4 separate regions of the Homo sapiens genome follow, and regions 2, 3 and 4 are each linked to region 1. Evidence: fine-mapped expression QTL. A gene starts in region 1. Each other region holds a variant in brackets. All regions are shown on one strand. Distances are between the middles of the regions.

Evidence for each region.
Region 2: its variant is fine-mapped to the expression of TRPV6 in whole blood (TOPMed, PIP 0.96).
Region 3: its variant is fine-mapped to the expression of TRPV6 in whole blood (TOPMed, PIP 0.97).
Region 4: its variant is fine-mapped to the expression of TRPV6 in whole blood (TOPMed, PIP above 0.99). The same link has a PIP of 0.9 or more in blood mononuclear cells and monocytes.

The regions. Positions count from the first base shown.
Region 1 is chr7:142,881,719-142,889,823 of GRCh38, forward strand. TRPV6 (transient receptor potential cation channel subfamily V member 6) reads right to left here and starts at 4,027. Exons shown (of 15, transcript NM_018646.6): 1 at 3,671-4,027. The coding sequence starts at 3,918.
Region 2 is chr7:142,923,589-142,931,693 of GRCh38, forward strand. TRPV5 (transient receptor potential cation channel subfamily V member 5) reads right to left here. Exons shown (of 15, transcript NM_019841.7): 2 at 6,761-6,858; 3 at 6,470-6,592; 4 at 5,840-5,977; 5 at 5,434-5,532; 6 at 5,103-5,278; 7 at 4,500-4,646; 8 at 1,941-2,153. Among named protein-coding and RNA genes, the nearest start is that of TRPV5, 6.1 kb to the right of the region's middle. The variant C/A (reference allele first, on the strand shown) is at 4,734.
Region 3 is chr7:142,952,147-142,960,251 of GRCh38, forward strand. It overlaps KEL (Kell metallo-endopeptidase (Kell blood group)), which reads right to left. Exons shown (of 19, transcript NM_000420.3): 5 at 6,158-6,282; 6 at 5,681-5,827; 7 at 2,319-2,381; 8 at 2,038-2,226; 9 at 1,662-1,810; 10 at 363-492. Among named protein-coding and RNA genes, the nearest start is that of KEL, 6.2 kb to the right of the region's middle. RefSeq lists an enhancer at 5,632-6,347. The variant A/T (reference allele first, on the strand shown) is at 3,708.
Region 4 is chr7:142,902,963-142,911,067 of GRCh38, forward strand. TRPV5 (transient receptor potential cation channel subfamily V member 5) reads right to left here. Exons shown (of 15, transcript NM_019841.7): 14 at 6,528-6,634; 15 at 5,139-5,846. The coding sequence ends at 5,552. Among named protein-coding and RNA genes, the nearest start is that of TRPV6, 21 kb to the left of the region's middle. The variant A/G (reference allele first, on the strand shown) is at 3,835.

The DNA of each region.
Region 1 (8,105 bases):
ACATTATTTCTTGAGCAAACAGATCAATGACCTCCTTCTCAGGGCTGCCTCTGGGCCACCAGGGAAGGATTCCTGACTTCCTCTCTCCGTCTCCTCCGCCCCACACCCTCATCTGCTCCTCCATCCTTGTAGATGTGTGCACTGTGTGCATGGGTCCAATTTGGTTTTTAGGTGCTGAGAAACAAGGCAGGATCACAAGACTCTTGAGAAAAGTTCAAATAAGATTTTTAGAGCTAGAAAGCCCCTCAGAAACTGAGTCAAATCTGCTCATGAAACAGATGGAGGAAGCAAGTCAGAGACAGAGCCACGACGCATGCCCCACTGGTCATTTCTTGGTCACGATTCTCAGTTTTAATCAGGGCTGGAAGAGGAGTTAGAGAAGACAGGCATGGGTCCCACTGGTCTCTCCACAAATACCTTTCCCACCAGTGAGTGTACCCTCTGGGCAGGGCTGGGGCTGGTACATAACAGGGTTGCTCGGAGTGCGTGGCTTCTTGCATTCCTGGGTGGATACAGTGCTGTGCAGGGGAAGTTCATGGCCCCTCTCATTCCCGCAGCATCTCACTCATTATCACTTTTGCTCTTTACAACCTTCTAACACCAGCTGAATAGTTCTCCCATGCTTCAGAAAAGGAAACTGAAGCGGCATAACCAAATCATTGCCAGAAGATCACACGGAGTTAAAGGCAGGATGCTTGGCCAAGAATCCAGCCCCAGGCTCTGACCACTAAATTATGTGGTTCTTCTAGTTTTATGGCTCCTCCTGATTTTTCTTGGAGGTTGGGGGGCAAGCCTGAGCAGTGACCACAGATGAAGGAAAGAGCGGTAATGTGTGGGGCGGAGGCATACATTGGGCACTTGTGGGCCACCTCCCTCCAGCTCATGTTCCTGGCAATGGGGATGAGAAAGCCAAAGTGGTTGTTTAGAGATTTGGAATCGGCTGCCATCCTAAGTGCCACAGCTCCTTTTGTGCACATGTCTATTTGCGCATTTACAAGTAGGCATGTGTGTAAGTATTTACCAAGGCAAGCGTGCACAATATACCAGAGAAACCCAGGGATGACTTTTCAGACACTCAATTCACACATTTCATACAGGTATTTAACCCTAAAAAAAGCTCCAACAAGCATCACCTTCCCTCCAAATTGCTCCTTAGATGACAAAGTGCCAGCACATGGGCTGGAGTGGGGTTCAGGTTAAGCAGCCTCTATGAAGCTGCCCAGGACACCCCACAGCAGCCGAAATCAGATCTCACACTTCCCCCTCTATGCTTCCAGAACACTCATTTACACCCTTCTAGTGATGTCTACTAAGCCCATCTTTAGCCCCGTATGTGCCTTCAGTAAACTTTGGTCATAGGAATGAGAACTCCCTGAGAGCAGGAACAGTGTCATATTCATTTTCTGCAGAAAGGTGGAGTGCCTTATGTTCAATAAATGTGTAATGCATTAAATATCAGGAAGTGAGAAAACCCAAGCCCAAGGGGGAGATGACCTGGAGGACACGGGAGAAAGTTGAGAGCTCGACTTGGATCCCAGCAATGTAGATTTAAGCAGAGCGGGCTGCGTGCTAAGCACCAAGAAACGTCCACTGTAAAAAGAGGAGTTTGGGTTCCCGATCATCCTGGAGAGACTCAAAGCCTTCCTTTCTCACTAGACCATCCTGTACCGCATGGAATCCCACGCAATCCCACCCCACAGTTCTCCCTGTGAGTCCCCTTTGGAACAAATTCAACTTCACCATTTACTTGCTCTAGGGTTCTGGGCCTGCCCCATTCATAGGGGGATAACAGGACCCACCTTCCATTATTGTTACCGGGATGACGGAGATAAGGCAGGTGGTAGTACCTAGTACAGCACTGGGTTCTCAATCATTGTGTGCTCCTTTCTTCCATTAGCTCACCCCTCACTTGTCCATATTGTTCCTATTTACTTAGTCATCCCATGTTTATCTCAATGCCCCCATGCCTTCTCTTTGGTTGACGGCACAGATTAGGAAACTCCCCTTGCAGGCAATTTCAGCATCCTTCTGGGAAGTGCCCACCCAAAGAAGAGTCATTGCTCTGGACACCTGATATCCAGCAAGAAGAAGGCCAAGAAAGTGCGGAGGCCAGTAAGGAGATCAGGGCAGGGAGGGGGGATCCCTCCCAAGGGTGACATCAAGCCTTTCTAGCCAAAGTCTGCAGAGGCAGCCCCCATATGATCTGAGGAAAAGTGAGGGCAGACAGGACATGCGGAAGCAGCCTATTCTCAGCCACTCAGCGCAGGGCCTCCCCTCTGCTCTCCCCTGATATCGCACACAGGGAATCTCCACCACCCCTTCCAATCCCCCAGGCCTTTTTGCACTCTGTGCCTGGATCCCCTGGCCCTGGGGTCCTAAGAGTGGGAAGAGGATGAGTGAAGCCAGTGAGGACGACCTACTCTCTAACAACAATGCCATTCTGTTGCCCCAAGATGTCATCAGCCAAACATGTGCTCCAGTCCCCACTCTCCCAGGCCTTGGGGGAGAGGTGGGCGGCTGGAGAGATGGGAAGCCATAATTCACAGAAAGAGACCATCCCCAACCCAGAATCCTTCAGCAAAAGAAAACACAGGGGCCTCCAGGCAGCCTCCCCGGTCAGGCTAAAGCAGGCTCCTACTCTTGGGGTCAGAGAAAAACCCTAAGGCACAAAGACTTCAGGCTTTCCTCTATGACCAGACATCTGCCTCCTTCGTGACCCAGGGAAAGCCCCAACAGGCAGGACTTCCTTCTAGCATGCCACCAACTGGGTAGAGAACTCTATTAGAGACCTTGAAGAAGAGACCACATGCAGGGATAGCCCTGAGTTCCGATTCCCTGCTCCTCTCCTGCTCTGTACTCCAAGCTGTCATGGTGAAGAAAGCAGGACACGGGTTTAGGAAGTTTTCAGGGGCTGGAAGCCACCAGTGAATGTCCTTAGGGCTTAAACGCTAGAGTCTCGATTTCCACCACCTGAATGCGGAAGAGCACAGGTCCTCGGAACATCTGTTATTTTGACCCGCTTCCCCTCAGTCCCCACCCGCACTGAGAGAGAAATACACCTCAAGGTTGGGTTTGAGCGTTGTAGGTCTTCATATCCCCCCAGTGCTGGGCAAATAGTAAGGCCTTGGTCAGTGTCTGATGAGACAGATACATAGGAATGGTCACTTTTTTCACATTTTGTCTTATTTTCTGGTTCCTGGTGTCCGCGGTTCTCTCTGCTTCATTCATTCAATCGTTCACTCATTCCTCCATGCGAACATATGTATACTATGTGTTCCTGCCAGAGAGACTGTTCTAGAGGCAAGCAGTGGAGATACAGAAGGCATTGTCCTCACCTGCCGTCCCCTCTTGGGTGGAGGGGCTGTGATGCTCTATCCTTACAAGCCCCAGCAAGACGCCTGGCCCTTAGAGAAGTACTCACAAGAGGCTTGCAGAATCGAATTAGATCTTAAGATAGTGAACACCTGTGCCCATCTCAACCCCATCCTCTTTCACCAGCCCTACAGGCTGAGGCTCTTAAGACAGAATGCTCCCAAGGAGCCAGTCCGGGCCTGGGAGCACCATCTGTCCAGCCAAAGGTGCCAAACAAAGACGGGAGGTGAGGGAGGGGTGAGGGGTAGAGGTGCAGGCCTGGGGAGGTGGGGAAGGGAGCAGACCAAGGGGGCCTTACCTCTTCTGCTGCAGCAGGTTCTGCTCATCTCGGCTCTGGGCCCAGGACTCCCGTCTCTGGAACCATCTGCAGAACTTGCTCCATAGGCAGAGAATTAGCCCTTTCTCCTTGGGCAGTGACAAACCCATGGGGTGTAGGGCCGGCTCCTTGGGGGCCTGAGGCCGAGGCCAGACCCTGACGGGACTCAGCCTTGGGGCCACATCAGCCCCCCCAAGGGCCGGCCCACCGTCTCCCTGTAGAGGTCCCGTCTCCTGTCTCCTGCCTTCCTGACGAGTTCCTTGGGAGTCTCCCAGCAGCCCCAGCCAGTTTGGAGAGGGCTGTGAGTTTGTTACACTTGGCAGAGCCAGCCAGGACTCTGCAGGGCTGGCCTGTCTGGAGCTCCTGCTGGGAGTGAGCAGGAGGAGCCAAAGCTGCACGGACACGCCCTCCCTCCTCCCAAATTACCTGAGATTTAAAGACACAGGCCAGCCACAGACCTGCCTACCAAGGGGGACTTGTGCCAACTCCAATTCTTTCTCCACCCAGGGCTCTCTCCCTGCCCCCAGGCCAGTCACAACCAGGGAGGCCTTCAGAAAGACTGGCGAGGCCTCCCTTGGACGTCAGAACACCCAGTGACCTACCCTGAGAGACTCTAGGCAGTGAGAAAGGAGGGGAGGAGTCAGGGCAGGCCCATTCCCAATGTTGAGGACTCCCAGGAGGGAGCGCCCCACTTTCCCACAGTGCCTCTTCTGCCGACCACCTGCCTCACTCTCTGCCTCCCCCTGCTTATGTCCTGGAGAATTCCATTTTCTGGACTCTTCCAGTTTCATTCTTGCCAGGCCTGAAATAGGTATATAAATTGCGAAGATACTCAGTTCTCCCAGACTTTCCTCTCAGTCCCCATCACCTTTGGGTCAGCAAACTTTTTCTGGAAGGGCTGATAGGAAATGTAAAGATGTTAGGTTTTGCAAGCCATGTACACTCTCTAATGTACGTTATTCTTTGGTTTTGTTTTGGTGGTTGTTTTCTAACCACCCCCAAAGATGTAAAATGCATTCTTCGCTCACCAGCCAGGGCACAAAATCTAGCTCTGGGCAGACCCCCTGCTCAGGAGCTCCACAGACTGTCCACAATGCCCCGTGCATGGGGTGGGTGCCCGATAAAATACAGGACACGTGGTCAAATTTGAATTTTAGATAAACAACAAAGAATTTTTTAGTATAAATATACCCCACGTTTTGCAAGTATTCTATCTGCCAGCCTTCCCGTGGAGGTGACATTCAGCTGCTACTGTGTGCTGGGCCTTTTAACTGAGCGTTCCCAGGTAAACTCGTAACAAACCTGCAAGGCAGGTATTATTATCTACATTGTATTGATGGGAGAAACCAAAGCTCACCATGGTAAAGGAACTCTCCCAAGGCCATAGAGGTGGCAGAGGCAAGATTCACACCCATCCCTCATTCCAAGCCCACTTCTTTCTCCCTAGCACACCTCCTCATTCTAACTGGCCAACAGAGCTTCAGAGAGGTTAAGTGACTCGCACAGTCATACAGAAGAATGATGGCATTAAGCATGGCCCATCGTCTTCCCACAACAAAGAGCTCCATCATGAGCTTGCTGGAAGCTGTCGGAAAGGTCATTTAGTTCAACTTTTCCACTGGAAAGGGGCAGAAGCCCGGGCTTATCCAACCTCCTGGTGCCAGCCAGGTGCCAATAGCCTAGGGGCAGGTGTCTGGGTGTTCAGAGTCACAGGTGTGTGGATCACTTCCTAGCTTCAGAGTCTGTTTTGTCCTAACTTTCTCTGACTCAGAGTTGGAAGACCCAGCCAGGGGAGTGTGTGTGTGGCGTGTGTATGGCGTGTGTGCCCATGTGCATTTGTGTGTGGTGTTTATGCGTGTGTTCATGATGTGCATCGGTGGGGTGTTTTGTGTGTGGTATGCTGTATGTATATGATGTGCCTGTGGTGTGTTTGGTATGTGTCTACGTGTGTATGATATATGTGATATGTGTAGGTATGGCCTGTAGAGCGTGTGGATGTGGTGTCTGTGATGGTATGTGTGACATGTGTGTTGTGTATATACGTATTGTGGAAAGATTGTTGCATGTGTGTTGTGTGTATGGTGTGTAGTGGGTGATGTATATGGTACCTTTAAGGTATGTGTGCGTGTACATGATGTGTGTGTGTGTGTGTGGTGTATACATGATTTGTGTAGTGTATGGTGGGTTTACTATGTGTGTATGTATGGTGTGTGTTGTGTGTGTATGTATGTCATGGGGTGTGTGTCATATGTGCTGTGTGTGGGGGGAGTCGGTGTGTGGAGGGAGGTGGATGCTGAGGTAGGGCAGGGGAGAGAAGGACCCCTTCAAGTGGAAAGCTATTTGTGTTCCTGCCGCTGGGCAGAGGCCAGGCCACGCAGTCCTGAGCAAACAGTTCAATTGGATTAGCTTCGTCCCCACCCACCTGGGTCAGTGGGTTCGGGCTGGGTTGGGGGAAGGTGCTAGAACCCAAACCTTGAACCCCAAGACCTTTGTGCCCATTAAGCCAGTGGTTTGTCGCTTCAAAGACCTATTTAGCTTCAAAGACCCCAGTTTAGTGTCTGGTGGGGAAGGAGAGAAAGCAATGAGGCCTTCGTTACGCTGGGGAGAGAGGCTGGGGGAGGGAGGCTTTGGGAGGGAGACTTAGGGAGGGAGGAGGATAGGAGGAGGACAAAGTTGTTTTCCAATGCTCTTCCTCTTCCTCAGCCTCCTCCACCTGGTGTTGTGCATGGATCAGCCAACAGACTCAAAATTGGGGTGTCCAGATGGGAGGGGAGGACAAGTTTGCAGGATATAAGCTTCTGGCTGCAATGTTCTCTTGGTCTTTGGACCTAACATCGTATCAGTAAGGGAAGGTGGCCCTAGGGTAGGTGGCACTACCCCCAGAAGCTCCTGAAAGCACCCCCACCAATCACTTTCAGTCTCGCATTTTTTTTTTTTTTTGAGATGGAGTCTTGCTCTGTCATCCGGGCTAGAGTGCAGTGGCGTGATCTCGGCTCACTGCAAGCTCTGCCTCCTGGGTTCACGCCATTCTCCTGCCTCAGCCTCCCGGGTAGCTGGGACTACAGGCGCCTGCCACCATGCCCAGCTAATTTTTTGTATTTTTAGTAGAGACGGGGTTTCACCATGTTAGCCAGGATGGTCTCGATCTCCTGACCTTGTGGTCCGCCTGCCTCGGCCTCCCAAAGTGCTGGGATTACAGGTGTGAGCCACCGCGTCCAGCCTCAGTCTCACATCTTAAACCTGCATCCCATATTGCTTGTTTCCAGGGGACAGGAAGGATGCCGTGGACCTCCTTCTCCCTTGAGACTAGCACAGCCCCCTCTGTGCCACTCCACCCCAGGGCAGCACCTCCTGACATGGGAGGAATCGGTTCTGTAACCCACAGTCAAGGAGTGGGCATGCCCAGGAGGCTGTGAGTTTTGGGGTGAAGGTGGTGAGGGGGAGACTGGAGATCCTGGGAGAGCACTCACGGGGCTGGCCTCTCCCGGTTCCCTTTCCCAGGCTCCAAAAATAATAAGACTTGTGTGACTTCTGAGTGAGTCGCTCTTCCTCTCAATGATTTTATCCATAATGATGAGTGCATGGCCTGACCTCTTTTCTGCCCTCGTGGTGGCCTCTGACCAAGCCCTGAAGAGAACCGAAGGGGTCAGGAGCCAAGAGGGAGGGAGGACAGGACTGGAGCAGGCAACCTGGGGACCAGGTGGTTAAACCAGTCCTCCCTGCCTGGGGCTGAGCCTCAAATGCTAAGTGAAAGTGAGGTCCTCAGGCTTCCCTGGGGGCCCCAGGGCAGAGTGTCAGAGCCTCCTCTGACGGCCCCTGAGAGGGGCAGAGAGGTCACAGTTACACAGTCCTGAGCTGGAGGCACAGGAGCTCCAAAGAGCTCCTGTGCCCCCGATGTTTCCGCATTTGGGGCACAATTTCTCGACCCCGGCACTATTGATATTTCGGAACAAATAATTCTTTTCTGCAAGGGCTGTCCTAGGCATTGTAGGAAGTTTAGCAGCATCCGAGCCTCCACTCACTGGGTGACAGTAGCATGTCCCTCCCCTCCATTGTGACCACCAAGGAATGTCTTTACACGCTGCTCATGAATGTCTTTACACGCTGACATTGGCAAAATCATTCTCCATTGAGAACCACTGATTTAGAGCCAGAAAAGTATATGTATAGTTTTTTTCTGGCTTTGTCACTTTTTATTTGTCCTATGTCTTTCTATGTTTCGCTCAGTTTTTCCTGTCTTACTGCCTCTGTCACTGTGCAATAGTATCTCTGCTCCCTTGCTCTTAGTCTCTGTGGTGAGGGGTGTGTGTGTGTGTGTGTGTAGTGTGTGTGTACATGCATTGCATGTGTGTGGTATTTTGGGGGTGTACTGGTGTATTTCTATAGTGTGTGTGGTATTTTGGGGGTGTATTGGTGT
Region 2 (8,105 bases), 42 kb after region 1:
TTCTCTTTGAGCTGAAGTGGCTTTCACTGAAGCAGAAGGCAGAAAGGGTAAAAATGCCAAGGAACAAGAAGGAAGGCAGAAGAGAGAAAGAAAGAAGGATGGGTCAGGTGTTCAGCTATAATTATGCTTCTGAGTCCTGAAGCAAAGGAGGCGGTCTTTTACATACAGACTATCTGGATCAAAGAAATGTGATTGTACATAACTAGCCCTGTCCCAAAGAGAAAGAGACACACAGGAAGGAGAGTTTTGGTTATCAGTGGCTCAGCATTGCCCACCTTTTAACCCAGAGTCCTGTCTACCTTCAAAATGCAGAAAATCTCCAAGTAAATTTGAGACAAAGGAAGGTTGGAGAAGACATATCTGAGGAAATAGGGCCAGGAGCATTGGAAAAGTCCAGTCATCCCCACCTTGTTTGTGTTTTCTCAATTTCTAATCACTCCTCCCTCCACTTGCCATCTCCTAACTGTCCTTATTTTCCTCATGTCTCCATGCCAGGGACAACTTTTGCGGCCAGACTGAGATGCATGCAGCACAACTGCTTCCAGTGTCTCTAACACATTCAGGCTTGTCCTCCCCAGGCAGCAAGACCTACTTGGTGAGAGGCAGTGTATCTGGACACATGACACACTGTATATATATACATATATATATATATACATATACATGTATATATATACATATATATATATATACATATACATGTATATATATACATATATATATACACACATATACATGTATATATATACATATATATATATATAGACATATACATGTATATATATACATATATATATATATATACATATACATGTATATATATAAAGGCAATTCTAAAAACAGGAGAGATGGAGTGTCTCTACCTAGCATAGGGTTCATTTGGGCTCTTTGCCCTGTTCTTTCTCTGTGCATATCGCTGTCTTTGGTCTAAACAAATTCAGGATTTTTGCTTCTTGGCTATAGAAAGTTTATATTCTCTTTCCGACTGAAACTACCCTGCTTCCTAGTCCAGGCTGAGCTATACCTATGGCTGCTCTCTCCTGCATTGAGATAAATCTCCAATCACTCAGTTCTCACTTGCTTTGCAAAATTCTTTTTCCTGGTCTTTTGCTTTCTGCTACATACCTACATCACCTTCTGTGTATTTTCAGCTCACCAGGACAAAAATTTTAGTAATCCACAAAGAGTCAACCCCTCAAATATAGCTACAGTTGTTAAATATATATATTCAGAAGTGCTCATTAGAGTCTACCCTTTCTGTTGCACAAAAAGGAGGTTTACTTTCTTCAACAGCAGATTTCTATATTTACTGTGTACCTCGAATCAGTCCTCTTCCTAACCCTAGTTTTCCCTTGGCCACCACAACACAGAATGGCAGGCCCACAACACTAAATGGAGCCTCAGAGAGTATTTACTTCAGCCTGATACCCAATCCAGACATCCTTCTGCAGAGTGTCTGACAGGCAGTCAGACAGCTGACACATTATTCCCATGGGCCCATATAGACAGCACACAGAAGAGGGTGCAGGCCAGCAGGGCTGTCTGTGTTGCCCAAATACAACAAAAATGGACTCAGAAATGGACTTGGAGCACAATTTTCCTCCTTTTGAGCAATAGAGTTTACCTTGAACATCCCACTAAAAAACCCTGATACTTTTTGTAAATTACCAAAAAATTTCACAAAAGCACAGGCTTACTCATGCCAAGCACTCTTTCAAAGTTTGTGTGAGAAAATCCACAGCTCCCTGGACAAATGCTCTTGTGCTCATTAAACCCCATCTGTGGCCTCCTGGTCTCATGTCTAATTTCTACCTGGGTGTTTAGGAGCCTACACCTGCTGGAACCCAGAGCGTGGCATCGTCCCTGAGTAGCATGGCTTCGTTTCCAGCACCATCACCCCTTGATGCAATTCTCTCTCATCCCCTTCTGAGGAGAATCACCTGTAGTAGTTTTTGCTGGAGGATGGTGATGTCTCGAGAATGAGTGCGGTTGCCACCACGAAACTTAAGGGGGCGGTAGACGCAGCACGTAGTAAAGCAGATCATGTAGAGCAGGTACAAGGCAGCCAGGATGCAGAAGTACGGCCGGCCATACTTGTTCCACTTGAAGCTCACCAGCTCCTTCACTGGGGTCTGTTCCAGAATTTGGCGAGCCTGGCATGGAAGTAGAGTGAAACTTGGGGTGACCAACACAGAAGGATGTTGTTTATCCCACTGGGGGCCAGAAGAGGCAGGGCAGCAACCATCACTCACTCAGCTCATCAGTCACTTATTTGACGGACAAATAGTATATTTCCTGCATATGGCTGGGCCTTGTGCTAGTGATACAGGTAAATGACTATAGCAGTAAACACAAGGCACCATAGCACCAAAGAGGATTTAAAGGATGAGTAGTAGTTAGATGAGTAAAGGGAGAGTTAGGAAAGATCATACCATAAGCTAACAGCAGTTGCCAGGTCAGGAAGGTCTGAGAAGCCATTGCCCATTTGCAGTTGAGATGTGGTTGGGGAGAGGGGAGAATCTATTGGGAGTGGTAGTCAGAAATGATAATGACTGAGGAAGAACAGGGCCAGGTCATCATGCATCATAAATGCCAAGGTAGGAAGTTTGCATTTTTTGTTTTTTCTAAATATAACAGAAAGCAACTGGGGAGTTCAAGCAGGGAAGTGGTCAGATTTGCTCTAGAAGTATTATTGGGCTGGAAAGAAGCAATGGAGGTTACAGGCAGTAGGATGTGGCAGGGTGGGATGGTGCTCTGAAATAAGCAGCCAGTGAGACGTTAAAGATACACAGGAGAGGGGATGATGGACGGGAGGAGGCATCTGAGAAATTAGAAAGAGACAGATTCAAAGCACAGTAGAGTGATTAGCCATTAACAGCATGAATATCTTTTCTACTGAAGCTGGAGGGGAGGAGAGAGACAGTGGGCAGTTTCCAGACATGCTCGGCAGTGTAGGGCAGGAAGCTGAAGGATCCCCAGCCAGAAAGCCTCTATTTTTGTCCTAAATCAGGAGTCTAGGTCTTCTGAACTGCAGCTGAAGGTAGTGAAGGATGTGAAAGGGGGCTAGAAAGGAAGATTTATGGAGGAAAAAAGCAACTGACCCAAGACACTTATGAAACCTGCTGGAGAATATTGAGAATAGCTTAAATCAAAGACCAAGGATATGTGGTGGCGAAATCCACACAGTGGGATTGTGCTTTTAATACCTAAGAAATCCTGCTCAAAGTGTATCTGTTTCCAGGGATATTCTCTGAGGAAGATCTCACAAACTAGCCACTCAACTTTTCTTCTATTCGTTAGTATTAATAATCATTCATGTTTTCTGGATCTATAAGGATTCCTGGGAAATTGTCACTGTGGCAGATACAAAACAGAAACTACATCTTGGCACTCTCATGGAACGTTCTGAAACCTGGAAGTCTTTTCTCCTCTCTACTGCAGTCTTCAACAAATTTTCGTTTCCCTCACATCACTCAACCCAGCATTGTTGAATGGTCTATACGTTGCTCCCTCTCTAAAAAGCTCTTTTTTTTCTCTCATCTTCCTGTGACTCCCAATTCTTCCTTGAAGATCCAGCCCCAGCATTTCCTCTGTGACATCTTCTCTGGTCTATCCAAGCCAAGTTAACTCTACCTCAATGTGGCTGTCTGCATGCATGGTACACACAACTATTACGGCATATGTCATGCTCTGTTGCAATTATTCAGGACAGGGACTGAGAATTGAGGAAGTTGATGAACAGGAACTGTGTTGTATTTATTTCTGTACTGTTTGTTTCTTGTGCAGTGCCTGACATACAGCGGGTGTTCAATATGCTTGTATTAGTCCATTCTCATATTACTATAAAGAACTACCTGGCACAGGGTAATTTATAAATAAAAAGGTTTAATTGGCTCATGGTTCTGCAGGCTGTACAGGTTCTGGAGAGGCCTGAGGAAACGTACAATCATGGCAAAAGGCCAAGAAGAAAGCAGGCACATCCTACATGGCCGGAGCAGGAGGAAGAGAGAGCAGGAGGAAGAGAGAGCAGGGGGAGGTGCCACACACTTTTAAACAACCGGATCTTGTGAAAACTCACTATCACGAGAACATCAAGAGGGAAGTCTGTCCCCATGATCCAATCACCTCCCACCAGGCCCCTTCTCCAACACTGTGGATTACAATTTGACATGAAATTTTTGCATTTGGACACAAATGCAAACCATATCAATGCTGAACCAATGAATGAATATGAGGAAACAGCTCTTATTTGGAGTTTCTCATCTGAAATGATAGAAGGCGAAAGGTAGGCAGAAGGGACTGGAGCTAAGCAGAGAGACAGGGGATTCAGGAGAGGAGTGTGCATTGGACTTTCCCCCATGTCCCAGGAGACTATTCTCATCTCCACCTATTATAAGGCTGGGAAGTGTCTCAGGCCCAGGATCTTAGTAAGTGGACAGACTCTGCACAAACACTAAATTCCCTCACATGACAGGCCTGATCCTCCTTGGCATCCATACCTCTCGTTTATCAGAGGAGACCACAAGCTCCAGGAAGGACAGCTCCTCTCCCCAGGAGTCGATCTCCGTGAGGTCGTAGAGAATGGAGGTCAGGGGTCCATACGTCCACTGGATGTGCCTCCGCTTCTGCATCAGGTGCTGGAACATCTGAGAGACCACCAGGATGAGTCAGGGGGCCAACGTGTGAGAAGGTGGTCGAGGAGAACAACTCCATTGGATGGAGCCAGTTGCCCA[C/A]CCCTTGAGACAGACAGACAGTGGGAACCAGCAAACCTCTGCATCTACAAGCTTTCCCTTTTTTGTCATCTTTCCTGCTCCAAAACCCCAGAAAGTGCAGAAAGAAGAAAATAGGCAAAGGAAGCTAGAGCTTTGGGTTATCACAGCACATGCATTAAGGTAAGGTTCTCAAATCCTCTTGAGTCAAGGACCATGAAGCTGAAGATTTCAGTGATGGAATAGGAAGCAAGGGACCACCATCCCTTTGGGGAGTTTGGGGAAAAGGGATTTTAGAGAAAGGTGGGCCCTTCACCTCTATTTCTCCCAGGGCCAGCAGGATAGGTTGAGGGTCATTAGAAAGACACCTCAGGGATGGGGAGCGTCTCTTACCACAGTGTTACCCTCCACTCCAGCCAGCTTGAAGGGGGTGAGACCCTGGTGATTGGGCACAAGGTCCAGGGGCTGCAGGTGGTCCCCATGTCCATCATAGGACAGCAGCAGGTTGTACATCTGGCAGGCAAAGGTTTTGTTGGGCTGGAGGATGAGGATGTGTAATACTGTGTTTCCTGGGGAGGACGCAGGGTATCATGTGGCCACTGGCCTAAAGTCCCTGATGTCCCCATCCCCACTCTGGGGTCTTCCTAAAGGTCCCAGCTCCACTCCTTACCCTGTCCCTCGCTCCCCACAGCATCCCAGCTCCCCTCCCCATCCCAGCTCTTACCCAGGGAGTCCTGGGCCCTGATGTCAGCTCCATGCTCAATGAGCAGCCGCACGATCTCCTCGCTGTTCACACAGGCAGCAAAGGACAAAGGGTGCTCCCCTGTGGACACAGAGAGATCCATGGCAGGAGAACGCAGGATGGCAGGATGGGGTGGGCAGTCTCCCCCAAATAAGGGCCTCCTCCTCATCCCCCATATCTCAGTTCTAGGCTGAGGGACACTCGTCCAGCAGAACCAGAGGAAGGAACCATCAGGGGAATGGGCCTCTGGCTTAATTAAGCCCTAGAAGGGCTGCCCCTCTCAACTGCCCAACAGATGGAGCTGAAGGCAGGACCCTCATGCCCTGGCCTCCCTCTGCCTTGCCCGCCTCTCCAGCCAACCATCCTTCAAGCCCAACCCTGCTCTCACCAAAGTAGATGAGGTTGCGGGGACTATGGCGGAAGGCAGTGCCTGTGGCTCTGGCAGAGACACTGGCCCTGCGGGTGAGCAGGGCACGCACCAGGTTCACATTCTGGTTCACAACAGCGATGTGCAGTGCAGTCTGACCTGGCCCAGAGACAGCCATCATCAGGGTCTCCCTCTGTCCCCAGTTCTCTCAGGGACACAGCATCCCCCACCATCCCTCTCAGGAGGTTCCTGATAGATCTTTGCTAGACTTCTGCCCTGGGCTTGGCAGGGTGGCCTGGGACTAAGAGCAATTCATCCCTCAGGCTGCCCTGCTCATTGACCTACCCTTCAGTTATTGGGAGCCAGCAGGGGATTGCTATGAATATAATCATTCTCATGTTGCTATGAGAGAAAGAAATTGAGATAGGTCCTACAGGGACTATGGGAGGTTTGAAAGGAAATGCTGAAGGAAGCCACAGATTGGTAAAAGCCAAGACCAGGACCTTTGCATTTCTCCCAACTCAACGGAGCCCATCCTCCTGACCCTCCATCACCCCACCCCAACCCATCCTTCAGAGGCCAATTTTAAGAGACAACAGCACACCCTCCATCTCAAAGTTTCCACCTTGAATTACCATGTAGGCTCCTTACCTGCAAAAGCCTCACATGTGGTGGGCTCAAAGACCAGCTCTGGGGCAGCCTCCATCAGCACCAAGGCCGCCTCCAAGTTGTCATAGAGGGCTGCTATGTGCAGCGCCGTCTCCCCCAGGGCTCCTGGATTGGAGTAAGACAGAGATGTTAGACACTTTTCAGATTCCCTTGAGGAAGGGGCCTCAGGCTCCAGAGACACCCTCCAAGGCCCTATTTCACAAACTCGAAGTCTTGGGGAGGAGGAGTAGGTTCTTCTGCCCCCACCTCCATCCCATTAAATCCAGATCCCACCTCTTTGTCGAACGTCACAGGTGCAGTCCAGTAGAAGTTGCCTAAGAACAGACAGGTCATTTTCCTTGGATGCTCGAAGCAGTGGAGACTCTAGAATCCTGGGGAAAGGTGAACGTGAGTTTGGAAGAGACAGTCATAGCAGAATGAGGCCAAGAGCAAAGGGGATCTAAGACATTCTTTAAGACCAACGTGACTCACACAGCGTGCAGTGACAAATTGGAAAGAAGTGCCTACTGGACTCGAATGACCGAGGGTGGACTTGGGCAAGGGTCAGCCCCAGGGCCTTCCTTGCAATTCACATCATGGTGATTCTCCTGTGAGGATGGCCCTTGAAGCTCTGCTGGAGGGGAAGAGTTAATAGGAAGAGAACCTGTAGTCTGGAAAGAGTGGTCTGAGAGTCTCTAAGAAGAGGACCCTAGGCTTGGCTGAATTCATCTAACCTGAGTAACTGTCTCAGATCCTGGATAGTTGGAGAGCGGGACAGAGGGCACTTCCATCTGCGGTCCCCCTGCTCCTGGGCCTGCTGAATCTACTGTCTTTAACCAAGGGGAGTTTGGGAGACCAAAACACAGAGGGAGGAGGAATGGATCGACTGCTAGATCTTTCCTAGGCATTTTGAAATTTGTGAAATTTGTGAGGCACTAAAGTTCTGACTACTCCCTCAGGCTATTTTTTTTTTTTTTTTTTTTTTTGAGACAGAGTCTTGCTCTGTTGCCTAGGCTGGAGTGCAGTGGTACAATCTCAGCTTACCGCAGCCTCTGCCTCCCAGGTTCAAGCAATTCTTGTGCCTCAGTCTCCCGAGTAGCTGGGATTACAGGCACGCACCACCACGCCCAGCTAATTTTTTGTATTTTTAGTAGAGATGGGGTTTTGCCATGTTGGCCAGGCTGATCTCGAACTCCTGAGCTCAGGCAATCCGCCTGCCTTGGCCTCCCAAAGTGCTGGGATTACATTGCGCCCAGCATCCTCAGGTTATTTAGATACAGGTCCCTGCAGGGGGTGGAGAGTTGTGGGGTGAGTTACAGGGTGCCTCTTTCTTCTGCATTATACCCTTAGATGCAAAGGTCTAAACAGCTTGTTTATGTGGGTGTCTCAAGGCAAAACAGGTTGAGATACTCATTCTACAGGACCTCTGTTAATCTTTGCTTCTACCATACCCAGATTTGAACCCAGAAAGAGATAAAGCTGGAGCCTCTCCAACTAGACATATGTGTATTGGCCCCAAAGGCAAGCACATGGTGTAGGGGGAAGAACAGAAAGGACAGGCCGATGAGTGGCTCCTCTGAGGTCCCCACCTCCAAATCCCTCTCTTCCAATAGCCCCAGGAGCCAGGGCGAAAAAGTGT
Region 3 (8,105 bases), 70 kb after region 1:
GTCATCCCAATAAATTGTAAGCTCTAAGTCCAAGTTATCCTGAGCAAATAGTGTAAGCATCATGACAAAGAAAGGGCAGTTTTGATAATATCAGAGTTTTATATTTGAGCTCAAACACCCAGCAAGAAGCCAGAGAGGTAGTCAGGCTGGGAGATGTGTGCCTGAAGGTCTGGCACGTGGCATCTTGGTTTTCAAGTTAAACTTTGTCTGTCCAACTTGCCTGCTTCTATGGAAAGCCAAGACATGGAGGGGCATCTACCATCACGGCCCCCTCCCTGAGAGAGAGATGCCGACATTTACCCCTCAAAAGAGTAGATACTCCTTTCGAGTATCTGGGCAAATACACCCGCTCCTCTCCTCACCATGGGTGGTTGCTCTGTCAGTTCCCGCAGTTTCTGGCTGAGCTTTCTGCGTGCCTCCTGGAATTGACTGTCCAGGGCTGGAGAAAGGGTCACCACCAGCCCTAAGATCATGTGGCTCTGCAGAAAGTCCCTATGGAGACAAAAGAGACCCACACATATACCCCAGGAATCTGGGGATGCTTCAAGAAGAGCCTCTCCTTGTGTAAGTCACCTTGATACTCGTGAAGGCAGCTCCTTCTCCTCTGTATTAATAAGTGTTTTAACATGCACCCAAGTCAAAAAGAGCTTTTCATGATGTAGGTTGGGGTGGGATCTAGCTCCTTAGTAAAAGAAACTAGATGAAGAGGCAGCCTTCAAAGTCACAGGGAAAGAAAGTTCTGGGCTAGATGGAGTCTGGACTCATGTCATGAAACAGATTCTGCTTCCACAGTCAAGATATCTCTGGTTATCCTCAGATGTATCTCATAAGCATAAGTAAGCTGGTCTCTGTGACTGCTCTCTCCTCCACCAGCAATGCTCCTGCCAGGGCTGCATTGCACCCTTATGTAAGCCTGCTCACTGCCATGTGAATGGGCAGCTACCTCCCTCAAAAAGGATTTCCAGATGCTGCTGCCACCATGAAGAAGGCCCTTAGGTCCAAGCCCCTGGAAGAAAGCCACTGCTTTCAGGTGGTAGCCACCCAGGTATCAGGGGAGGCAGAGAGCCCAACAAAGAGCCACTCTTTCATGTCCCCAACCCCAACACCCCCTTGATTTCCTGACACCAGCAGAAATGCTCTTAGACATTGTTTCCCATAAGAGCTCCAGCATCTTCACACCACACCTGAGGAATGGCCCCTCCTCTTCCTTTCTTCCCCTAAGCATCCCCAGCCTTCACCATGTTCATCTCCTCATCTCATGTGCCTCCTCCTCCTGCCCACAGTCCTCAGCTGCTAAAAAGACATACATACACTTAACTGTCTTCTGTGTCTGGGTCTTCCAGCATCTTCTACAGCTCAGAGGCTCTTGACTGGCTGGTGTTCTACTCTCAGGAAACCCCGTGTCTTGGCTGACCCTGCGTTCCTCATGTCGTGTGTATCCTCCCTTACTCGTGCTCCCAAGACACATCCTTCTTGATCCCTCCATCCTCTCTGTGCCACCCACCCCACGCTTCTCTGCCCGCACAGGTGGCAGGTTCCTCTTATCCTCCTGGGAGGCCCTTACCAGCCTGCCTTCCCCAAGGTTTCCTTTGCCCCCAAGATCTACGGTGCTCAGGCTCTCCTCCATTTCCATGATCTCCCCAATCCCACCTGCGGCGAACCTCTGCTTTAGCAGCATCTCCTCCACCAGTTGTGACATGTTTTTCAAATATTCCACGTCATGGACCACGAGGGACTGAGAAGGGCTCAGGGACATCGGTGTGAATGTCGCTTGCAAGCAGGACAACCAGTCGATGGCGGGGGCCATTTCCTTAGAGGAGGGACACAAAGCTGAGGGGGAAAAGGAAAAGAGAAGGAAGGGGAAAGGGCTTCCCCTTGGGTGTGAGAAAAAGAAGAGAACAGGCTAACTGGGGGAGGGGATGGAGTCAGAGACAGAATGAAAAGGTATTAAGGGCACTAGGAGGAAGAAGGAAAGGAGGTAATGTTTGAGAGGAAGATCCCCATGCCCACAGTCTTCTGGCCCCCAGTTCCAGGCACCTTGAGCTGGTCGATAGTGACCATCTGGAAGAGCTTGCCCTGTGCCCGCCGCTGCTCCAGGGGCCTCAGAAACTGGAACAGCCGTGAAGTGATGGAGATTGACAAGGAAGAGTGTTCTTGCACCTTGCTTGGGTCTCCTCCCAGCAAGGTTCCCAGCTGATTCAGGTAAGTCAGGTATTCCCGAAAGATCTGGAGGAAGGAAATGTCAGTCACAGGTGCCAGAGGTCCCTGCTTTTCTCCTGGCCTCAGAGGGCAGGGCCTTTGTCCATGTGCCATCTTACCTGGGCATAGATCTTCTGTTCTTGATCTTGCTTGAGGGGAACATCAAACTCTGGCTGGTCTATCTGGGCACAAGAGAGACTGGAGAGAAGCAGGGAGCATGGCGGATGGAGAGGGCAGGTGTGGGGAGGTGGGGAATATACCATGGGAGATGGCCTTGGGAGATGGACACAAAGATTGGACAGAAGAGAAGCAAGAGTACAAAGAAAGGGAGGGATTAAGGGTTGAGGGGCATGAGAAGAAGAGTCCAGATGTGAAAATGGGAAGAGATGGTGAGTATTACAACCAGTGTGGGTGTGCCCAGCAAGGCAGAAGCATGATAATCAGCATCTTAAAAGGAGCTATTCCTTGTCTCAGGAACAGGGCCAGGGTGAGTGAGGTGAGGAACCTGTCCCAGGTACAAAATCTAAGAGGTACCAAAAACTCAGTAATCAAACTGCAACCTAACTTAGGAGTATATTCTTGCAACAGGTAGCTCCATCTCAGCCAGCCATACCAGCTGATCTTCAGGCAACCACAGGCTGTCAAGTGATCAGACCATGCCCATTAAAGACAATTGCTAAGCTGTAACCAATCAAGCTGTTTCTGGGTGTCACTTCCTCTTTCTGTAAATACTGCCTGCCTGCATTGTTGGGTGGAGCTCTCTGAACCTCTACTGCTTCAGGATGCTGCCCAATTCATAAATCAGTCTTTGCTCAAATAAACTCTTTTTTAAAAAAACTCAGTAATCAAGATAAATAATTAACATTTTAAAAAATCAAAATTACTACCAAAAATGTATGATAAATAAAATCTCAAAACTTTGCTTATCATGGACTTTTTTTCCCCAAAAAAACATACTTTTAGTCAATTTTGAAAAGAATCATGATGTGTTCAAGAAAAGTCCTCAATGTATTTTTGATTCATTTTGAATAAAAAAATTAGTATTTTCAAAAAGATTCACACAGAATTTTGTCCCATTTTTTGGGAAAAAAAGCATAATCTTTTTTCAAAAAAATTCATAATGAAGAAAAGTTTGATATTTTGTTCCATCATGTATTGTTGCATTGATTTTGATTTTTTAGGAATATTTAATAAAATACTATTTATCATGATACTGAGTTTTGGGGACCTTCTTAAATTAGCACCCCAGGTAAGCACCATGTATATTTCACCTTAGTCTGGCCCTGATGAACCCTTGTTTCTATTCTGAAGATCTTTGCTTCTACTCTTTCCCTTTTCTTCTCCAATTTCAATATCCCACTCTTATCTTGAGCCATATACTTTTCCTTCTGTCTCGAAAAAAACTTTCACTTGACCCTTTTGCTACATTGTATGTCCACAGTTCAAAGAACAAAAAAGCATCTATGCCCATTGTTTCCACTTTCTTATCTTCCTCCTAAGCTCTGTGC[A/T]GTCTGTGTCCACTGCCATAACTGTTTGGAAAGTATCTCTAGGTATCCAAGGGTGTCTTCTCATTCCTTCTTCTCTGAGCTGACCCCTCCTTCCTGAAGCTCCTTTTCTTTCCTTTGTGGCCCACCATACTGGTCTAGCTCCCATCTCTCCAATAGTACTCTCTCTTCCCTGGCTCCCTTCTGCCCTCAGTCTTTGGACTTCTCTTTCTGTAGTCCATTCTTCCTACCTGCTTTTAACCCAAGAGACTATCCAGGCTCACACTGATGATAATCACCCTCCTCCCACTCACACTAAATCAAAACAATGGGATCACTGTGTAATCCCCCACTTTCTTTCTTTATATCCAATCAGTCACCAAATCCTCTAGAAACAGCATGAACTATCATCACTAGGGTGAAGTTGCCTAAATCCTTGTGCCTGGCTCTTCCTTTCCATTTCTACCTCTATCTCAGGGCCTCAAAAATGCTCATTTAGTTTCCTCAACACCCCCAGACTGACCTTCAAAACTGCTGACTCTACGCACAACCATCAAAATACTTGCTCTATGCACAATTGTCATAAGAGTTGGATGGCCTCAGTAGCTCTTTTTTTTTTTTCTATTATGTCAAATGTTTCACCTTCGCCTGGCTTCTTAGAAATAATCAGGCTCAACCTTATGTCTTCAGTCTCACTTTTACCTCCCACTGCACCCCACCTTGCCTCCCAAATCCTCAATTAAATAGATCAGCCTCCTCACTGACTCCACGAAGGAATCACACCATTCCAGGTCCTCCCCCTGGCTCAGCATTTCCAACGCCCCATAGCTTCACCTCCACTTGTGTGAATTAACCATGTTTCAAGGCTGGCTTAGCTCACCTTCTCTCATTCTCTCCTCTCTGAGCCTCTCCTTAACCAGATCTTAACCGGCCCCTAAAGGCCACATCAGTTAAACTCCTGAGCAGACTGTTTAAAACTAAATTTTAGAACACCTCATAATGATAATCAATTCTTCTTTTGTACTTATCCTTTGGTAATTTTGTGGCTCTTTTGACAGTAGGGCCCAAATATGCAGATAGCATTACATTGTTTAACCACAAGAGTGATAGCTCCAGTGTTTTTATTTAGTTACTCACTCACTACAAATACCTGGCAAAACTTCTAGCTGCCTGGCCCTGTGATAGGTCCTGAGAAACAAAGGTGAATAAAGCATGGTCCTGTTCTAAAGAGGCTCACAATCTTCAACACAGAGTGATAAATGCTGAGAGCATGAGGAAACGAAAGTAGGGAGAGCAGGGCTTCACCTAACTCATAACTAGGGTGTCGGTGAAGACTTCCTGGAAGAGATAATAAAGCCAACATTTGAAAAACATGTAAGTTTTCCAGGTTCAGTGTGGGGGATGGTTGCAGGCACAGGGAGCAGCATAGGCAAAGAACTGAGGAATATTCCTGGAAGCAGCAGTGAGTCAGCATGGCTTGGGGGTAAGGGAGAGAAGGAATGTACGGGAGATAAGGCTGGAGAAGTGTGTAGGGGTCAGATCACAAGGTGCTTGCAAAGCTTTACTAAAGATTAGGGACTAGATTCTGATGACCTGGCAAGCCACTGGGTCACTGACAAGCATTTAAATACAGACAGTAGCATAGTTAGTTAGCCCTTGGTTTAGAAAAGTTCCCTCTAGTAAAAATAAAGAGTAAATAAAATGAGGGCAATCCTAGAGATAGGAGGACTGGTTAAGGGGCTCTGAGACTAATCCAGATTAACAGTAAGAAAGACCAGGCCTACTTCTGTCTTCCCAGCACTGGCTCTGCTGCTCCATTTCCCACCCCCAGCTAATGTCCCTGACTTTCACATCAATAATTTTCCCTTAAGGTAGGGTTGTTTCCTATATCACACAGGTGTCCTCTCTTCCCAACCTGCAACCTTCCTCTAAGGGATGATTGGCTAGAGTTGGAGGCAGGCCAGGTCCAACTGTGTCTTCGCCAGTGCATCCCTCACCTGGATGACTGGTGTGTGTGGAGAGGCAGGATGAGGTCCTAGGTAGGCTCTGAAGAAAGGGAAATGGCCATACTGACTCATCAGAAGTCTCAGCGTTCGGTTAAAGTTTAAGGAAGTCCATTTACCAGAGATGCGCCAGCCTCCAAGCTTTAAAGGAGAGAGAGGGGGCTGAGCATAAGGATCCGTGGAGCCCATCCCCCATTGTCTGGATCGGCTCTTACACAGCTGCTACTGCCTGACCTCTGCCCTGCGCCCTTCGATTCCTCTAGGAAGCCACATCTATCCTTTTTTATCTGCCTTCTCCCAAGGTCCTGATACTTTCATAGGGCATAACCATTTCCATCTCCATCTCCCTCCTAGAAATTGGGGGGCCCTAGGAAGAAGACCCACCCTCTAGAAAAAAAAATGGCAGCCCTAAGCATGCATTGGTCCCATATGTTATGTATCCAGAAAAGTTAATATCCCAACTTTTCTCACCTCCTCAATAACTTGTCTGAGGGGACCAGTCCCTGCAGCTTCAATGGCAAGTGTATCCATGCAGGAGTTGTAGAACTGGAAGGCTTTCTCCTCCCCAGAGCCTGGGTGCCAGGAATTCTGGACCTCTAGAAAGGAAGCATGGGAGTGAGGACTAAACTCTGATTTTTTTTATCTTGCCCCAAATTCCTATCAAAGGGGTCTGGGGAGTCATGCCCTATATCATAAGTTCTCATCAGATGGGTTTTATTTAACCCATGTAACATGATTTACTTTCTAACCTGATTCTGGCATAACATTACGAGACAAAGAAGAAAACAAAAATATTTTACCCCAAAACATGTTTCTTTGCCACATTTTGAAATGGCCCTGCAAAGCTGTTCTTTGTGGAGGAAAATTTGCATCTGTAAAGCATCTCTATTAGCTATTAACATATCTCATTAACATAGCTAGATCTTTTGATTAACTAAGATCTGAATAGGAAACATTTGTCACCTATTGTCTCTAAGGGCAGCCACTATAAGACTTCAAAAGAACTTCGGTCTCCGCAATCTTTATCTTACCCTGAACATTCCCTTTCTATCTATCCCAGATCTTTAGACAAACTCAAGCAACTGTCAATCCGGAAATGTTTAAATTCACCTGTACCCTGGAAGCCACCCCCACCCCTTTGAGTTGTTCCACCTTTCTGGACCAAACCAATGTATTTCTTAAATGTATTTGATTGATGTCTCATGACTCTCTAAAATGTATAAAACCAAGCTGTGCCCCAGCCACCTTGGGCACATGTTCTCAGGATCTCCTGAGGACTGTATCATGGGCCATGGTCACTCATATTTGGCTCAAAATAAATCTTTTCAAATATTTTACAGAGTTTGACTCTTTTTGTCGGCAGGAGAATTAAAGGAGTGGCAACTGGTATAGAGGCAAAGAGGGAGGGTGGGAGACAGGGAGCTTACAGGAAAGAAAGACTCCCACAGAATATGGAAGGAGGGGGAGGAATAGAGATGAGGAAAATAAGAAAGATGAGAGGACTGCCCAATTTGGAATGGATCAACTTGATGAAATGATGAAAGCAGGGAAAGAGAATGAGGAGAAGAAGACAATATGGAAAATAAAAGAAATGTGGGGAAGAAACCAAGAAGGAAAAGACAGGGAAGAAAGGAGAAAGGTAGCAATAAGTGGGATATGGGCAAAGGAGAAAAGAGAGAAATGAAAGACAAAAGAAATGATTGAAGAAATTAGACAAATTCAGGGAACTAGAGAACTTTAAGGATTTGGAGAGAAGAAAACTCATAAGGAAAGGTTTAGCAAAGAGAAGAAACAGGGGAAGACTCTTCTAGTCCAGACTCCTCATCCATTGATCCCAGGAAACAAACACACTACAATAATCAAATGCAAGTCTCTCTGAATCATCCACCCTCTAATATCTAACACTCTTTTCACCCTCAGTCCCCCTGATATCTATTCATCCCATTGTAGGCAATATAATTTATCCTGAGCATATTTTTTCTTTTTATCTCTGTGCCTTCCCTGAAAGTATCCATTTACCCAAAGAGAGGCCCCCTCCCACTCTTTCCCCATCAAAAAAAGAGGGCAGAGGGGTGCATTTACTTTTCCCAGATTCTAATTGATAGTGTCAACACATTCTTTAGGTTCCCTTGCACTGGAAATGCATGTCTATCTTATATGTTCTTATTCCCAAATCCTCACCACCATCCACCAACTTCCTGGGACGCACTTCCAACCTCCTACTCAGTTTCAGCTCATCCTTCTGGTTTTCCTCTCAGTCCTGGCAGTTTTCCTCTCCAGCCTCCATCTGCAGGAACTTTACTTCCACTGCCAATTAACTCAGCTCTCCTCTTCTTCCAGCATATCCTTTGTACTTACCCACTTTTTCTCTTATGCACAGTGATGAAGCCCTCTCTCACTTCTCACCCCACCATCCTAC
Region 4 (8,105 bases), 21 kb after region 1:
CCAAGATGTTATTTTCCTTTCACATCCTCCCACCCTGTTCTTCCAAATCTTTCAGGGAAAGCATTGTAGAAGAAAGTGAGTGTCTGATCTCAGGTTTGGTCTGATCCCTTGTCACTAGGACAGTTTATTTCTAGAGGGTTAGGTCCCTCATTTTAGAAAGGATCATTCTTAGCAGGTTGTGAAGTTTCATGTTCCACAGAGAAAAATAGGGGAAAGAAGAGAGAAAGAAAACCAGTAGAAAAGGAGGAAAGATCATGACAACAAAAGGGGAAAGTAATCCTGGAAAACTGATTTAGGCTATATTGCTCTGAAGTCCATGAATGAGTAGGCAGGCACAAAAGTGGTTTATATATATAAATAATTTGCTGTTACTTTTCCCAAAGTTTAAGTTTCAAGTTTCACTTGGCAGAACTTTAAGAAAAGCACAGTTTTAATTTTAATTTAATTTTAAATTAAAATTTCTAGTTTTAATTTCTAGATTCCAAATGAGAAAAAAAAGGGAAAAAATGAAAGAAAAAGGAAAAAAAAAATGAACAGTAGTTTGGAGACTTGTAGCCAGGAAAGGACTTAGGATTCAGTCCAAATGCATTTTAACAAAGAATGAAACTGAGAAACAATTGATAAGGTGGGGTCTAAGAAGAGGTGTTTTATATGTTTTTTTAAAAAAAAAAAAAAACATAATTTTTATCTCAGTCCTCCATTTTTATCAAAGACAAATCATAGTAGGACTAATTTATTTGTAGAAAAGCTTTAGTTGTATTATACTTCACCTGATTCTTTGTATAAAGTGCAGCAAGAATAATTATTTTCTATTTAGGCTTTTTTAAAATTGACTTTGCTGGAAACTTTTTTATTTAAGGAATCTTAGTTTAGACTTTTTAAAGGCCCCAAGCCCAGTCAAGAATTTATTTGTGCCTGCAGATATCTGTATGAACTGGGCGAATGCCTCTCTTCTTAATCCCAAGATAACTTGGGGTTCCCGGGCCTGCCAGAAAGTAACGTTCTTTACTTATCACAGGTTGGGAACCCTGTAAAAGAATTGTGTAGGCAAGGTACAAGGCCAGTTTTTTTAAGGATCTTTTATTGGCTCTATAAGTCAATGGCAATTCCTTAAAACAGTTTGTTGTTTTGTTTATAGCTTAAAATATTTCATTCTAGTCAAAGCTTTAGTAAAATAATAGTCTCCAATTGTGTCCTGTTACAAAAGAAAGCAGATTCTTATTGAGCTCATACAAATAACTATATTGTTATAAATTAAGAATACTCAAAAATAGTTTTCAAATTCTGGAGAAATCAGGTAGAGAGAAAGAAATATGCTTTAAATTTTGCTCACAAGAGCATATTTTACTCAATTGTTAAAAGCTGTAAACAACCCAAAAAATGAAAAGAATCACCAATGTTTCAGACAAAAAGATCACACAAAAAATTATTTTAGTCTTCTATTAGCTCAGTTCATGCAATTAACCTCTGTTCTATTTGATATTGGGTCAACAATCCTCATGAATACATCAGATCTCCAGGAGTGTCCTGGAAGATTTTTTTCCTCTATTTTAATGGCACAATCTCCAAAGCTGTCAGAAACCTGCATTTAAAAGTATCCATCTGATACAGTTTGGCTTTGTGTCCCCACCCAAATCTCATCTTGAATTGTAATCCCATAATCCCCACATGTGGTGGGAGGGACCCAGTGAAAGGTAATTGAATCATGGGGGGCAGTTCCCCCCATGTTGTTCTCATGCTAGTGAGTTCTAATGAGAACTCACTCATTCAGTGAGTTGCCCACTGTACTCTAGCATGGGCAACAGATGGTTTTATATGGGGCTACCCACTTTGCTTGGCACTTATTCTCTCTCCTGGCACCCTGTGAAGAGGTGATTCTCCAGTGATTCTAAGTTTCCTGAGGCTTCCCCAGTCATGCAGAACTGTGAATCAATTAAACTTTTCTTTATAATTTACCCAGTCTCAAGTATCTCTTCATAGCAGCATGGGAATGAACTAATACACCATCAGAGTCCTATAACTGATTATAAGCAACTTTTTGAAAAGGAACAAAGTAAAATAATAATTGTGAATGACAAAAGATATCCACAGTCAAAGATATAATTGACAAGGAAATCTGGTTATTTCTGTGGCACACAATAATTTACCATAATTATAATTATTACTGATCACATATACCAAGACATATTAAAATTATAAGAATATTATACAATTTTGGAACACATAACAATAGCACATTTATATAAATATATTTCAAAGAAAGTTACACACCATTTTATACTTGGCAATGCCTCCTGTATGATTTTAACATATCAAATAAGCCAAATATGCCTCTGTTGGACATTTAAAAGTCAGTTTGAGGTTAAAAGACTGCATTTAGAATTTAATCTTGGAAAGTTAGTCCAACATTAAAAGTTTAAAGCACTTGATATCGCAAAATGAGATTACAGGTCATTATAATCATTTAGCTAAAGTGATAACTCACCAATTTTAAAAAAAAGCAGAAATCTTTACTCCTTGATAAAGAAGACCTCAGTTTTCTAAAAAATAGGACCTAATAGAGACAGTGTGAAGCCAACTGAATCTGTCTCTCCTCTCCTTCTTCTTTAATTTTTTTGGCAGTTTATTCAAAGGGCAAATGAAAATCTTTTACTATCTCTTAATATTATACAAAAATCTTATTTAAAAGAGAAAACCAAATTTTATTTTTGTATTACTGTATTGTTAATTCTAAAGCTTTAATAGAATCTTATAAGCAAATCTACCAAATTTTAATTAGTTTGATTGTAAGGTAAGATTTCCATGAGGCTTTTATAAACTTTACAAATTTGTGTTAAAGAACACATCAATATTCCAAGAAAATCCTGCCTCACACAGGTGCTCAGATTCTGACCCTGCATCAATGTGCTATTTATATGAATGTTCAATTTGTATAATATCTAAATAATCCCCTTAAAATTTTAGCCAAACTTGATCACACACAAAATTCCTTTTACAAGATCAATCTTCCACAAACCTTCTACGACTTGCTTAAACCTTCAGTTTTGTCGTTTCTGTTAACTTGAAACAGTCCTTAAAATCCTCTAAACTAGAAAAAAACACTTTCTCTTAAAAAAGAACCACACTCCCATGACTTATTTTAACATTTGTTCTCCAAAAAAAAACACAGCCTACCTGTTTAATACACATTGTATGTACCTAGTAGTTTTAATTACATTCATTAATTTATAATGTTAACTCTTAGTAATTCTTATTTTAGTGAAAAACCTAGGCAGTAAGCAATTTTAATTACATACCAGGTGCACAAGCCAGGACAAAGGACAATACCTGGGGGCAGGCCAAGGGCTCAAATCAAAAGACATATAAGTTTATAGACAAGTTAAGCAAGTATTAAAAAGATTACAGGGCTAGTGCAGTGGCTCATGCTGTAATCCCAGCACTGTGGGAGGTCGAGGCAGGTGGATTGCTTGAGACCAGGAGTTCAAGACTAGCCATGGGCAACATGGCAAAACCCCATCTCTAAAAAAAATACAAAAATTAGCTGGGTGTGGTGGTGCACACCTGTAGTGCCACCTACTTGGGAGGCTGATGGGGGAAGATTACTTGAGCCCAGGAGGTCGAAGCTGCAGTAAGCAGTGATCACACCACTGTACTTCAGCATGGGCAACAGAGCAAGACCCTGTCTCAAGAAAAAAAAAAAAGGACTACAGAAGCAGAATTTTAAAGTGCTTCTACTATGAAGAGAATAAAGAAGAATGATGGTGACTGAGCAGTTTTACATACCCTGCCACCACTGTGTCCCAGTGTGTGCGGGCGTGTGTATACACATTGTGC[A/G]ATCCCTCACTGCTGGGCACTCAGCCCTGGGCTGGTGTATCTGAATTAACTGTCTGTGGTTTCACAAATACCACTTACTTCTTTGTTATCCCAGACCACAGTCCTTTGAAAAGCTGACATGGCTTTTTGCTAAGGGTGATGATGGGGCTGGGATTAGAAGTATAGTGCTGGAGACACAAGAGAGGCTGACCATGAGCACCTATAATGGGTGCCCTGGACACATGATTCCTAATTTCCCTCCTGGAGAGGGATGACCCTTCCTCTATTGTTGCTGTTCCTTTCACAACTCAGTGTGGGGCAAAGGGAGATGGGAATGGAGGATGGCTATGTCAGGAGAACAAGCAGGAGCCTGTTGCCTCCAGGCACAAGGATGATTAGCTGCTAGGGACAGAGCAGGAGGGTCCTGGAAAAGAAATGATTAGGCCATTCAAATATAGGCCTAATTTACCATACATTCTTAAAAACACACCAGGATGCAAACACTTCAGACTGTGAGCCTCAAAAAGCAAAGATAAGGCAATTCAACAACAACAAAAACCTAATTCGAAAATGGACAAATAAACTGAAAAGACATTTCTCCAAAGAAGGTATATAAACATCCAATAAATAGGTGTATAAAAACGTGCTCAGTATCATTAGTCATTAGGGAAAGGCAAATCAAAACTACAATGTGAAGCCACTTCACACCCATTAGAAGGGAATGTAAAATGGTGAAAGCTATTGTGAAAACCAGTATGGCAGTTCCTCATAAAACTAAACATAAGAATTGTCTAGCAATTCCATTTTTAGGTGTATGCCCAAAGTATCTGAAAATAGAAACTAGAACAGATATTTGTATACCATATTGATAGCAGCATTATTCACAACGGCCAAAAGGTAGAAAAAACTCAAATGTCCATTGGTAGATGAATAAATAAACAAACTGTGTCAAATTTTGGACTAAGATTGCAGAATCCCACTTACATAAGATACCTAGAATAGTTAAATTCATAGACAGAAAGCAGAATATTGGTTATCAGGGACCAGGGCAGAGAGATAGCTGGAGAGTTATTGTTCAATGGGGATTAGAGTTTCAGTTCCGAATGATGAAAAAGTTCCATAAATGAATAATGGTGATGGTTACACAACAATGTGAATGTACTTAATGCCACTGAATGGCACATCTGAAAATGGATAATATGGTAAATTTTATGTGACATGTATTGTGCCACAGTAAAAAATTAAAGAAGGCAAGAATAAGGAGACTTTTTTATTGCAGTTGGTGTTTGCTTGCTAAGTGGAGAGAGAGACCTACAGGAGGCTGGGAAAAAAAGAAGGGCCACAACCTCTATGCCATGCCTGGCTCTTCCCACGTAAGCCCTGGGGAGCCAGAAAAGCCTCACAGCTTACTACTTTCTAGGGGCTGCGTGGGGCAGAAGAGAAATGGTCCTGACATTAATCTAGCATCCCTGCCTCATGTCTTTAGTTGCCAACCTCCTTTTTCCTGAGATGGGTGACTTGCAAGAGCCCAGAAAATACGTGAGACAATCGATGACCATTGCCCATTGCCAGAAATTCTGATGTGAAGTGTGAGGCATGACCCTTTAGGGATTGTTCTGTCTCACCCTCCCATGATTAACAGGCACAGAAGTTAGACACTTGCATAGGCAGAGGTCTCCGTCTCTGTCCCCGCCCCCAGGCCAACCGGGAGTAAGGTCAAGAGTGATAGCGATGTTAATCAAAAATGGTAGACCTCCTCTCCATCCCCCTCACTAAGGTTCAGTCCAAGATTCAAGTGCCCCAGGGTGTTTTGACGAAGGATCTCCCAGCCTCGGTGACTGCTGCTCTGGGACGCGGTCCGGGACAGGGAGGAAGTTGGAAGAGCCAAAGAGGCTCTGGCTAGAGTCCCACTCTCAGCCCCAGAGGGCTGTTTCTCAGATGGATGCTCCTGGTCATCCTCCTTGTCTGAGTTCTTGAACACTTCCACATAGCGAAGCACTCGCAGAGGATTCTGATCATTGTGGTTCTCAACCCTGATAAGGGGAAAGGGGAAAGGACTCAATCCAGGTGGGGAGACATGGGCAGGGGAGAAGTAGAGGTGACCATTTAGAAAGCAGGGTCAAGAGGGAAGCAGAAATAAGGCAGCAGAGTTGAAACAGGAAGAGTATCTGGGATCAAGTGAAGGGAGGTGATGGAGGGCAGGCTAACCTGGGATAGAGATAATGGAGGCTGAGCAATCAGGGCTTGCAGGGTGGTAGGACGCACACAGGTGTGTGTGTGTTTGTGTGTTACTAATACGTAGGAATGTGAAAGAGAAAACAGAGCCAACTAATAGATAAGCGTGTCACAAGGATGACGAGATGCAATTCAGGAAGTAAATTTGAGGAGAGAGGAGAGTCACGCCGGGAGATGAGGGCAGAATATGAAGGAGGAAGTTAGATCCAAGCCAAAAGTACACTGGAGATGAAGGTCAGCTCAGAACAAGGTTACAGCAAGTCTGGTAACCCATGCTGACGTCTGAGCATGGACACATGCACACAACCTTTTACACGTGGCTGCCCTGAGGTACACACAGCATTCTTCGTACCCCTCCACTTCAGCTCCAGCCCCCTCCCCTAGACAGGCTAATGTAGGCTCCAGGACGCCTGTCGGTCACCCTTGCTTCCGTGGCCTTATACACATCTGCAGTTTTGCATGTGCACACCATCACTCACCGCAGGAACCAGCGGTCCCCCAGCCCGAATTCGCACCCACAGATCCCGGAGCGAGGCCACAGGCAGCGAGGCAGCTTCCGCTCCAGCATCACTGTGGTGGCCACGACCTGGAAGGAGGCAGGAGATACAGGAAGAACTCTGAAAGAGCCATGAGGTTCAAAGAGGCACTGAGGCCACTGATAAAGGGAACCAAAGGCAATCTGTGAGATAGGACACTAGAGGTCAGTGGTGAGAACAGCCACCTATTCACCCCACAGCCTGTGCCAGGCACCATGCAACCAGCTTCACTCATCAAGAAATGAGAGAGGATTTTTTGTGAGTGTTTTGAATAAAATAGTTGCCCTTACATTACTATTCACTCATGGAGAATGAGTCACTCCAAACTAATCTCAACTTCTTTTTCATATAAAAGCCACAGACCAATTATCTCGATTTAAATAAAATGATTAAAGAGAATCTCTACGATCTTGGGGATGAATTGATACTGTTACTGTTCAGGGAATTTTCAGCAAATTAAATATCCACATCTTAGGAAGGAAAAGGGTTGATTAATGACTGCAAGTTGGCAGGGAAATTTCTGGTAGCAAGTCCACCACACGTTCTGTCCTTTGCTCAGCCCTCATTAATTACTTAGATGAAACATGGGAAACAAGCTTATCAAATATGCCTGTGACACAAAACTGGGAGGGATATGTAATATGTGGGGCAACAGAAGCAATATAAAATTATCTCGCTAGATTGGAATGCTGGTGTAAAATCATTAACAAGAAATTTAAGTAAACCAAATCTAAGGTCCTATATTTACATTTAGGAAGCTTAGATAAGTGAGTCATAGAACAAAGGTGTGGGAGTGCTAGCTGATCACAAGCTTAATAAGGGCCATTTGTATATTTGCTAAAAGACCTGACTCAGCTTTAGGTACCCTTAGCATTATGTCCAAGTAAGGAAAGGCATAGTCCCGCTTTGTACCGCATTGCCCTAATCATACTGGGGACTATTCTAGTTTCAAAGAAACCATGATCTATTAGAGCATGGACAAAAGGGTGCAATCAGAATAGATCAGAACCAGGAAGGCTTCCTAATTGAAGGAGTGCAATCTTCAAAATAGCAAATTCTTCACCTCATGTTTTTCTACTCCCTATCTTCCTCATTACTCCACACTTCTTTCAGTTTCTTAATTGCACCAAGTTCCCTCCTAGCTCAGGACTTCCAGTCATTCTGTGCTCTTACCCTGGATAGCTGTTCTTCTTTGCCTTGAAAGAAATGTTTATTGTTCCTCCTGAGCCATCATGCAGCCCCGTCCTTCCTCGGGTAACAGCACCCATTTTTCATTTAGGGAATTGCTCCCTCATCACTTTTAGTGCATTGGTTTGAGTGGACTGGGCTTCACACAGTTGTGCTTAATTAATCTATTTTCCCCCAAACCTCCCCTCCACCACCATCACCAACACCTCCACTATCTAGTCCTTGGTCTTTCCTTAGATTCAACGATGTGCCTATGACCCGAATGTGTTCCCATGAGATGGAACATGGAAGGAATTGGCAGGGGGAAAGATGTTCTTTTAAAGCCTGCAGTTT